Linked DNA regions of Homo sapiens: all the other regions are linked to region 4. The links come from fine-mapping of genetic effects on gene expression. A gene starts in region 4. Each other region holds a variant in brackets. All regions are shown on one strand. Distances are from middle to middle.

What was found. PIP is the estimated chance that this variant, and not a neighbour inherited with it, causes the effect. A credible set is the group of variants that fine-mapping cannot tell apart.
Region 1: its variant is the best candidate, but not a certain one, in a credible set for the expression of GCNT2 in testis (GTEx, PIP 0.54).
Region 2: its variant is the best candidate, but not a certain one, in a credible set for the expression of GCNT2 in iPS cells (HipSci, PIP 0.54).
Region 3: its variant is the best candidate, but not a certain one, in a credible set for the expression of GCNT2 in aorta (GTEx, PIP 0.87).

What each region holds. Positions count from the first base shown.
Region 1 is chr6:10,484,686-10,487,448 of GRCh38, forward strand. No RefSeq gene overlaps it. Among named protein-coding and RNA genes, the nearest start is that of LINC02522, 4.1 kb to the left of the region's middle. The variant A/G (reference allele first, on the strand shown) is at 1,554.
Region 2 is chr6:10,556,434-10,558,933 of GRCh38, forward strand. The region is part of intron 3 of GCNT2 (glucosaminyl (N-acetyl) transferase 2 (I blood group)); the gene reads left to right. Among named protein-coding and RNA genes, the nearest start is that of GCNT2, 36 kb to the left of the region's middle. RefSeq lists enhancers at 1-188, 2,122-2,500. The variant CT/C (reference allele first, on the strand shown) is at 1,060.
Region 3 is chr6:10,544,179-10,546,678 of GRCh38, forward strand. The region is part of intron 3 of GCNT2 (glucosaminyl (N-acetyl) transferase 2 (I blood group)); the gene reads left to right. Among named protein-coding and RNA genes, the nearest start is that of GCNT2, 24 kb to the left of the region's middle. The variant C/T (reference allele first, on the strand shown) is at 1,390.
Region 4 is chr6:10,520,149-10,522,911 of GRCh38, forward strand. GCNT2 (glucosaminyl (N-acetyl) transferase 2 (I blood group)) reads left to right here and starts at 1,203. Exons shown (of 5, transcript NM_145649.5): 1 at 1,203-1,269. LOC101928146 (a long non-coding RNA gene) reads right to left here and starts at 1,258. Exons shown (of 3, transcript XR_001743961.2): 1 at 1,200-1,258. RefSeq lists an enhancer at 1,490-1,549.

The DNA of each region.
Region 1 (2,763 bases), 35 kb before region 4:
TTGCAAAACTATCATACAATATTGCATCTAGTATATTAAAATGTACATAAACTACCAATTTTATTCAGTTTCACTGTTACTCATGTGTATTTTGTTCTAAATAACTATATCGCATGTGTAGGTTTGTGTATTTACTTCCCCAGCCATGACCACAAAGAACTCTGACCTCTCCTGTTGTCCTTTTACAGCCACACCTACCTGTCTTCATCATGACCCCCCTCAATGCCTGGCAGCCACAAATCTGTTCACTTCCAAAACTTTGTATTATCAATAATGTTATATACATAGAATCATGTAGGCGTGTGTGGGATTTTTTTCCACTCTGCATACTTCCTTGGAGCTTCATCCAAGTTGTTGCATTTATTGTGAATTTGTTCCTTTTGATTGCTAAGTGATAGTTTGTAGTTTGGATGTACACAGTTTAACTATTCATTAAAGGACATTTGGACTGTCTCCAAATTTTGGGCTATTATGAACAAGACTCCTATGAACATTCTTATATGGGTTTTTATGTTAATGTACATTGTAATTTCTCTGGGATAAATACCTAAGAGTACAATTGCTAGGTTAATATCTATTTTTATAGGTCTTGGCGAGCAATAAATTGAATGAGATCGTGTATGTAAAATCACTCATCTGACTTTTTTTTTCATTCCTCAACCTTCTTCCTTTCCTTCCTTTTGATGACGTTTTGGTCATAGGTTTGTGCTAGGATGAAAGTCTTGTTTAAAAAGAAAAAATGAGAGGATGGACTTCTTTTTGGAAAAGATGTAATGAACAGATGCCGTTGAGACCTGTTAGGATTTTCTGTCCTTAAGTTTCTTTCCACAGATTTTCAGAGCTTGAGTCACTTTATAATTTCAGAGAACACATCTTCGTCACCTGCTGTGGCGTAGTGACTTTAATCTAGATGATCTTGCTGGCAGCTGTGCTGGATGAACAAGTGTCTTCTGTTTTATAGGCAGCATCGTCACAAACACTGTCAGGTCAGGAAAAGAAAAAGAAACACACACCACAGCACTTTATTCCAGGCAGATTGAAAAATCTGCGTCTGCTTTCCTGACCCTAACTTTTTTATTTTTTTTTGGAATCTCACTCTGTCGCCCTGGCTGGAGCGCAATGGCACAATCTCGGCTCACTGCAACCTCCGCCTCCTGGGTTCAAGCGATTCTCCTGTCTCAGCCTCCCAAGTAGCTGGGATTACAGGCACCCACCACCACGCCTGGCTAATTTTTTGTATTTTTAGTAGAGATGGGGTTTCACCATGTTGGCCGGACTGGTCTTGAACTCCTGACCTCAAATGATCCCCCCACCTCGGCCTCCCAAAGTGCTGGGATTATAGGCATGAGCCACTGTGCCTGGCACCTTAACTTTCTTATTGGGCGTAAAGGGTAATTTTACATGTCAACGACTCGGCGGGCCATGGAGTGCCCAGATATTTGGTCAAACATTATTCTGGGTGTGTTTGTGGGGGTGTTTCTGGGTGAGATTCACCTTCGAATTGGTAAACTGAGTAAAGCAGATTATCTTCCTAATGTGGATGGATCTCATCC[A/G]ATCAACTGAAGACCTGAACAGGTAAAAAAGAGGCTAAGAGAGAATTTTGCCCCTCCCAGCTACTGATCTTGGACATCAACTGTCTGAGTTGCCCTGTTGCCCAGACTGGAATGCAGCGGTGTAATCAGAGCTCACCTGGGATCAAGTGATCCTCCCACCTCAGTCTCCTGAATAGCTGCACCACAGGCATGCCACCATGCCTGGATAGTTTAAAACTTTTTGTAGGCCAGCTGCGGTGGCTCATGCCTGTAACCCCAGCACTTTAGAAGGCTGAGGCAGGCGGATTGAGGTCAGGAGTTCGAGACCAGCCTCACCAACATGGTGAAACCCTATCTCTACTAAAAATACAAAAGTTAGGCATGGTGCCTCCTACCTGTAATCCCAGCTGCTAGCAGAGGCTGAGGCAGGAGAATCACTTGAACCCAGCAAGCAGAGGTTGCAGTGAGTTGAGATCATACGCAGTCCAACTTGGGAACCAAGACCAAAAACTCCAAAAAAAAAAAAAACCAACACAACCACACACACACACAGAAAAGACACACTCCAGGGACAGGGACTCAGACTTTCCAAATAGTCTTCACAAACTTATGCTTTTCCAGGGCTGCTGGTGTGTCCAGAATTGGTCAGTGCCCGGTTTCACCGACTTCAAAAATGAAACCATGGGCCCTTAACAGTGAGTATTAAATTTCTTATAAGCGGCATGTCTGGAGCTTGCTCCTTCTAATGTTCCAATGTGTTCAGTTTTTTTCCTTTTGGTGGATTATGTAGTCTTCCTTGCTCAGAAGTGAGGCTACTAACTTTCACAGTGAATGTTATAGCTCGTAAAACTGGCACGTCTGGAGTTACGTCTCAGTGAATTTGTGGGCTCACTGGCTTCAGAAGTGAAGCCACAGACCTTCATAATGAGTGCTACAATTCACAAAAGCAGCACAGACCTAAAGACCAAGCAGAAACAAAACGAGGGAGGAGGAGGAGAAAAAGCTTCCACACAGCAAAAGTAGGTTACAGCTTATTACTACTGGAAGCTCAAGGCAGCCTGCTTTTATTCTCTCATCTGGCCCCACTCACATCCTGCTGATTGGTCCATTTTACAGAGAGCTGATTGGTCTGTTTTGACAGGGTGCTGATTGGTGCGTTTACAATCCCTGAGCTAGACACAAAAATTCTCCATGTCCCCGCTAGATTACCTAGATACAGAGTGTTGACTGA
Region 2 (2,500 bases), 36 kb after region 4:
CAATGCGTTACCTCTTCATAATTTCTGTCTCTAGTGTAATTATTTTTATCGTCTTCTCTGTGTTCAATTTTGGGGGAGATCCAAGCTTCCAAAGGCTAAATATCTCAGACCCTTTGAGGCTGACTCAAGTTTGCACATCTTTTATCAATGGAAAAACACGTTTCCTGTGGAAAAACAAACTAATGATCCATGAGAAGTCTTCTTGCAAGGAATACTTGACCCAGAGCCACTACATCACAGCCCCTTTATCTAAGGAAGAAGCTGACTTTCCCTTGGCATATATAATGGTCATCCATCATCACTTTGACACCTTTGCAAGGCTCTTCAGGGCTATTTACATGCCCCAAAATATCTACTGTGTTCATGTGGATGAAAAAGCAACAACTGAATTTAAAGATGCGGTAGAGCAACTATTAAGCTGCTTCCCAAACGCTTTTCTGGCTTCCAAGATGGAACCCGTTGTCTATGGAGGGATCTCCAGGCTCCAGGCTGACCTGAACTGCATCAGAGATCTTTCTGCCTTCGAGGTCTCATGGAAGTACGTTATCAACACCTGTGGGCAAGACTTCCCCCTGAAAACCAACAAGGAAATAGTTCAGTATCTGAAAGGATTTAAAGGTAAAAATATCACCCCAGGGGTGCTGCCCCCAGCTCATGCAATTGGACGGACTAAATATGTCCACCAAGAGCACCTGGGCAAAGAGCTTTCCTATGTGATAAGAACAACAGCGTTGAAACCGCCTCCCCCCCATAATCTCACAATTTACTTTGGCTCTGCCTATGTGGCTCTATCAAGAGAGTTTGCCAACTTTGTTCTGCATGACCCACGGGCTGTTGATTTGCTCCAGTGGTCCAAGGACACTTTCAGTCCTGATGAGCATTTCTGGGTGACACTCAATAGGATTCCAGGTACGTACAATTCCATATTTCATGCAAAAGAAATGTGTCGTATTTGAAAGGGCTTTAGAATAACCAGCCACTTTTTATTAGGAAGTAGAAGATGAAAACTGGAACATATATAGTTCTCACCCTAGTCCTTTCTAAATGCAGAAAGATGTT[CT/C]TTTTTTTTTTTGAGACTGGATCTCACTCTGTGGCCCAGGCTGGAGTGCAGGGGCAACATCATGGCTCACTGAACCCTGGACCTCCTGGGCTCCAGCAATCCTCCCACTTCAGTCTCCTGAGTAGCTGGGACTACAGGTGCACACCACCATACTGGGCTAATTTTTAAAAAAAATTTTGTGCAGACAGGGTCTCGCTATGTTGCCCAGGCTGGTCTCCAACTCCACAGCTCAAGCTATCCTCCCCATCTTGGCCTCCCAAAATGCTGGGATTATAGCCATGAGCCACCATGCCTAGCCCAGAATGATGTTCTTTATGTGATAATTCACATGTTCTAGCACTACTAAGTAATACCTTTCCATGCTATCACTTGGTGGTCCATCAAGTTCTTTTTCACACATCATCTTATTACATCTTTACCACAATAGCTGTTAGTCCACACTGGTGTTCTTTCTTTCCTCTAAATTTGTCAGGCTTGCTCTTACCCCAGGATCTTTGCCTTGGCCACCCTCCTGCCTACTCCAGGCCTCCACAGGCTCCTTCCCCTTAGCCAGATCTCAGCTCTCAGGTGTCAGCAGCTCTGATACTCCCCCTCATTGGCCAGCACACCACTCTGTTTTTCTTTTAAAGAGTTTATTGCCCTGTGGAATTAGGATATTTACCTATTTGCATGGGTTTGTTCTTGGTCTCCTCTGCATTTGTTCCATGAAGCCAGGGTTATTTTCTATCTCATTAACTGCTCCTCAGTGCTTAGAACAGAGAGTAAATGCTCAATAAGTATATATTAGATGAATAAATCAGTGAGTGAGTGAATGAATGGTAAAGCATGAAGCTTTACTATGGCACCAGAGCTGTCTCCCTAAGACATTGTTGAGCTGAGAAATATTTGGACTCATGCATGTACCATATTATATGTGTAGGATTTTTAAAAATACATTTTATTTCAAATAAAATAATGAGATCCTAGCAGAAACTCCTTGCTTTCTCACCCGAATTTTCCTATCTTTACTAATTTACCAGACCGATTGTTTTTTAAAGTGTATAAAACATGATGGGATTTCTTCTGAAGAAAACAGCGTGCTTTGGACTCAATGAAAAATACAAAATGGATCTCTGATGAACTAGACAGCATTATTATAGCAAGAGAAAAGCAATCATTGTTCTGGCTGTTGGGGGATTGCCAAGTTCGAAAGGCTGGTAGGTGCTCTCAGGCTGCAGGGCAGGGCCTGCTGGGCGATAAACACGCCGGCATTCTCTGGAAAATACCATGCCTGGTGTTTGAATCCCAGGGTGACTTTCCTGGTGAATGCGGCTCACTCGTATGCTGCGCACACTGTTTCCGCACCTGCCTCTGCCTGGGTTCATCCTCTCTTCACCTTTGATCTGTTGTTTCCACCATTCGCATATCATTGAGGAGCATTAGGTACTTAGGAGCTGATTT
Region 3 (2,500 bases), 24 kb after region 4:
TGGTGTGCGCCTGTAATCCCAGCTACTTGGGAGGCTGAGACAGGAGAATTGCATGAACCCAGGAGGCGGAGGTTGCAGTGAGCCGAGATCACATCACTGCATTCCAGCCTGGGCGACAGCAAGACTCTGTCTCAAAAAGTAAAATAGGCAACACGGTGGCTCACGCCTGTAATCCCAGCACTTTGGGAGGCTGAGGCAGGTGGATCACGAGGTCAGGAGTTCAAGACCAGTCTGGCTAACTTGGTGAAACCCCATCTCTACTAAAAACGCAAAAAAATTAGCAGGGCGTGGTGGCAGGTGCCTATAATCCCAGCTACTCGGGAGGCTGAGGCAGAGAATTGCTTGAACCCAGGAGGCGGAGGTTGCAGTGAGCCGAGATCACCACACTGCACTCCAGCCTGGGTGACAGAGCAAGACTCCATCTCAAAAATAAATACATAAAATAAAATAAAATATTAAATAAATAAATAAATAAATAAATGGGGCCGGGCATGATGGCTCATGCCTGTAATAGCAGCATTTTGGGATGTGGAGGTGGGCAGATCACCTGAGATCAGGAGTTCGAGACCAGCCTGGCCAACGTGGTGAAACCCCATCTCCACTAAAAATACAAAAAATTAGCTGGGCGTGGTGGCAGGCACCTGTAATCTGAGCTACTCGGGAGGCTGAGGCAGGAGAATCACTGGAAACCGGGAGGCAGAGGTTGCAGTGAGCTGAGATTGTGCCACTGCACCCCAGCCTTGGCAACAGAGCAAAAACTCTGTCTCAAATAAATAAATAAATAAATAAATAAATAAATAAATGAGGTGGTCAGAGAGCTGCTGGGAAAATAAATAAAGCAATTTAATTTAATCCTAATATGTAGTTACTATGATTAGATTCCTTTTCTGCGATTTTATGTAAACCATCATTCCTCTTTTTAAGAATCAAGTGGGTACAGCCCCCCAGCCCCCTCCTTTCTAATAAAACTGTATCTTCTCTTTCTAGTCTATATCCTTTTCCTCCCAGCTCTTGCACGGTGAGCTGAAGGGTTCGTGCTGAAGTCCTAGTTGGTGCCTTTGCTTTTACTTTTTTGGCTTTTTCCATTTTGCAAGAGCTGTGCCTTGGCTGTGATCTCCATTTTTGTGGGTGCTCATTGGTCTGCGCTATCGACATTTGACCACCTAGAAACTTTGGAGTTTTGTTTAAATCCACATCAAGCCAGCTCAAACTTCCTTAGTGATTTTTGCTGCTTTAAATACTACCTTTTGTGTTCCTGAGCTTGACAAACTTAGGACAGTTTCTGACAGGGTTTCATGTTCTTTTGTTTTTACCTCGAAGGATTCATAACTGTGTCTCTTTCTAGTATTCTCCTTATTAGGAATAAAGCGAACTTCAAATTCCTATGAT[C/T]GTTGCAATCCTAACCTCCTTCGTGCCTTGTGAAAAATCATAACAGTTTTCATGAAGGGTAAATCAGTCACCCTTGTAGAATTTTCCATTCAAATCCTGAGCCATGTGAAGCTGTTTTTAGCTGCTTTCCTGAGTTTAGTCCTGGTCTGGGAGACTCAAGTGTCTTCAGCTTTGTGAATCAGGCAAAAGCCAGCAGTGGAGGAGGGTGTAAGACTTCCTTGCTTTTCAGCTCCCAGGCAATACAAGGGATGGTTAAGATGGCAGGGTAAATGAAATTAAAGAAAAGGCAAGGTTAAGAAATAAAATCAGTTACAATGGATAGGTCACTGTTGACAAGATGTGGGGCCTGAAAGTAGAAACCTGGAGTTGTTCCAAAGGTTGCAGGGTCTAGTTCCAAGGGCAGCTAGAAATGACTTGATCTTTTCCCCATGTGTAATATTTTCCCGATGTGTGTTTTTAGCTTCTTAAACTGATTCCTGTAACGGCAGCCTCTTTTGCTGTTCTTTATGCCTCACTGCTGAGCTTCCCTGCCATGTCTGTGCATGCTGACTTGCTGGGAATGGGTTACAGATGGGCTACACGTTGATCTCAGCAGCATATACGGCAGGCAAAACCCAGGACAGTTGAAGCCGTTTGGCCAGATACCTCTGGCTGAGAGCAGCTTTGTCCATTTTATCTACAGGTTTCAGACAAATGCAGTTGACCAGTGCCAACAATGTGGCGGTTAGGCCCACTGAACCCCTGTGTAGCCAAAAACCTATGTATAGCTTTTGACTCCCCTAAAACTCAACTACTAAAAACCTACTGTTGTCCAGGCACGGTGGCTGATGACTGTAATCCCAGCACTTTGGGAAGCCGAGGTGGGCGGATCATGAGGTCAGGAGTTCGAGACCAGCCTGGCCAATATGGTGAAACCCTGTCTCTACTAAAAATACAAAAAAATTAGCCAGGCGTGGTGGCAGGTGCTTGTAATCCCAGCTACTCAGGAGGCTGAGGCAGGATAATTGCTTGAACCCAGGGGGCGGAGGTTGCAGTGAGCCAAGATCTCGCCATTGTACTCTAGCCTGGGTGACAGGGTGAGACTCCGTTTAAAAGAAAAGAAAAGAAAATA
Region 4 (2,763 bases):
GTAGTCCCAGCTACTCAGGAGGCTGAGGCAGGAGAATTGCTTGAACCTGGGAGGCAGAGGGTGCAGTGAGCTGAGATTGTGACACTGCACTGGGTGACAGAGCAAGGCTCTGTCACAAAAAAAAAAAAAAAAAAAAAAAGTTGATTTGCTATTTCTTCAGTTTATCCTGGCTTTATGACTGGAAAAAAATTTTTTTTAACTCAGTTGGATTTTTTCTTTTTTTTTTTTTTTTTTTAAGTTGATGTCTCACTATGTTGCCCAGGCTGGTCTCAGAATTCCTGGGCTCAAACAACCCTCCCGCCTCAGCCTCCCTAGTAGCTGAAACTGCAGGTGCACACCACCATACCCTGCTTTATCCCCACTGAATTTTATAAGCTGCTTCTGACTGCAAAGTGTTTGGCAGAAGAGAGGGATATGGCTAAATGCACGGTATGACTAGCTTGTTTCCTGGGACAGGAATCAGTTCATTCCTGAAAGGGTATGTAAAGAGCCCGTTTGCCTGGCCTAGGAAAAGCCAGAGGTTCAGAGAGAGGAAGTGACTTGCTCAAGATATACAGCTTGCATTAGAGAGGAGAGAACTTGCCTTCTGAAAATGCCCAGGGCATTTTCTACTAAATTCTGCTGCCACCTTAGGATTCCCCTTCCCCAGTGTGGGTAGCATTTGAGCAGAACACATATCTAAATCTGTTAGAGGTTACCCTGGGGCAGAGACTATAAGATTTCCTACCAATAACTAAACATAAGAGTGGAACCTTAAACACGAGGGGTCTGTGAGGGAATCCAAAACTTCCCCTCTTGAAAAAGCAGCCTCTAAGGGGGCAAAATGGAGGGTAGTCTTAGGAAAACACCCAAATAATTATCCTGAGGTCTATCTTGGAGTGTCCTCATGAAAAACCCAGTTACACCCAGGGCAGTTACCTTTCTGAGCGGTTTCTTATAACATTCCTGGAGTGGAAAGTGATCAACTCAAAGCCCTCCAGGACTCTAGAGGCAGGGGATGAGCTGGTGTCAGGTAGCACCTGGTATCCAGCAGCTTAAAAAATCCAGACTCTAGGCAGGCTCTCTGTAGACGTGTGTTCTCCTGTCTCAGACTCTTAGGGCAGGCCTTGGGGGTGGGACTGAAAGCAAACAGACCTTCCCACTTTCACATTCCAGCCTCTGTTATTCCACTTAAAACGCTAGGGTTAAACTGCGTTTACCTTAAACAGGCTTACTGTGTTCACTGCTGGACGCCTCTGGGCAATCTTACCCTCCTGGGAACTGAGAGAGGTAGGTGGAGGTCAGCGTGCTGGGAAACTGGTGGAGGGAGGAAACTGCGGGGAGCTGGTCTTCTCGTGTTACCTCTGTTAAATCGCTGACAGCAGTTTAAGGTCCAATAGGCTGGTACTCAAATGGGCTGCGTGGATGTTTTATATTTCCAGAACCTAGCACAGTGCCGGGCATAAAGTAAGTACACCAAAAAATGTTGAATGAGTCATTTGGTCATGAGATTTCTGTTTTCAAAGGTTTTTTTTTTTTCAAAGAATAGCATGTTTGTATGTTGTTTCATTACATGATGGGCCTACTGGGCACGAGGGTTTTCCATCTGTCTCTAAATCATTAGTATCCTTCTGTATCTCAGTTACAACTTTTAACTTTGTAGGAAAGAACAACGTTCACTTCAGACTTAATGGTTTATGTTTCTCAGTTCCTTCAGGCAAGGGAAAATGTTTCCAGAATTTGATAAGGTACTTGGTACTGTCTGGCATTTAAATTTTTTTTTTTTTTTCCAGACATAGTCTCACTCTGTCACCCAGGCGAGAGTACGGTGGTGCGATCTCAGCTTACTGCAACCCCCACCTCCTGGGTCCTGCCTCAGCCTCCTGAGTAGCTGGGACTACAGGCATGCACAACCAAGCCCGGCTAATTTTTGTATCTTTAGTAGAGATGGGGTTTCATCATGTTGGCCAGGCTGGTCTCAAACTCCTGACTCCATGTGATCCACCTGCCTCAGCCTCCTGAAGTGCTGGGATTACAGGCGTGAGCCACCGTCCACAGCCTGAAATGTATTTTATTTAATTAGTTGCTGTGAGGTATGAACATTCCTGTGAGGTATGAACCTCATTTGATAATAGGTAAAATTGAAAATGAAGCTCTGGGCCATGTAGAAAAGTAGTAGATCCATATTGCCATTCTATGAAAACCCATCTTCTGATATTAAAGACAGGTCTACTAAGTAAATTCAGGTTTTGCCAAACTCAAAGCTACTTTTCTGTTTTCCTTATTTTTAAATGTAGGCCTTTGAGAGTCGTCACTTGTAAATAGTCTTTCTGCACCTGGTAGTAGATTGGCCAAATAGAGGGTAGTTACCTGTAGGCTGTGGTTTTCCAGAAGAAATAGGGAGACTGTAATCCCAGGCCCTGGGGACCCTACAGCGTAAAGGATCTGTTTCTTTGCACTCTGTTCTGATTGAACAGCATATTGCAATTATCGGAAGAAGGGAGGCTATATTCTTTCATGTAATTATTCTTAGTGATCAGAAGCTTGAGGTCTCCCTTGTGGAAGTATTCTACCTATGGCAGTAATTTTTGGTTCCTGTAACTTCAAAATCCTATCAAGGACTTTCTGAGCGATAGAGGTCGGGAGGGTAAGAGCAAAACTCCATCCAGAAAGGTGAAAACAACAAACAAAGCCTCGGGCACGGAGATTGGGCTGCTGTTCTAGCTTCTCATAATATCCCATTTATAGAATACACTCAATCCTCAACTCCAGGGTAACTTTCTG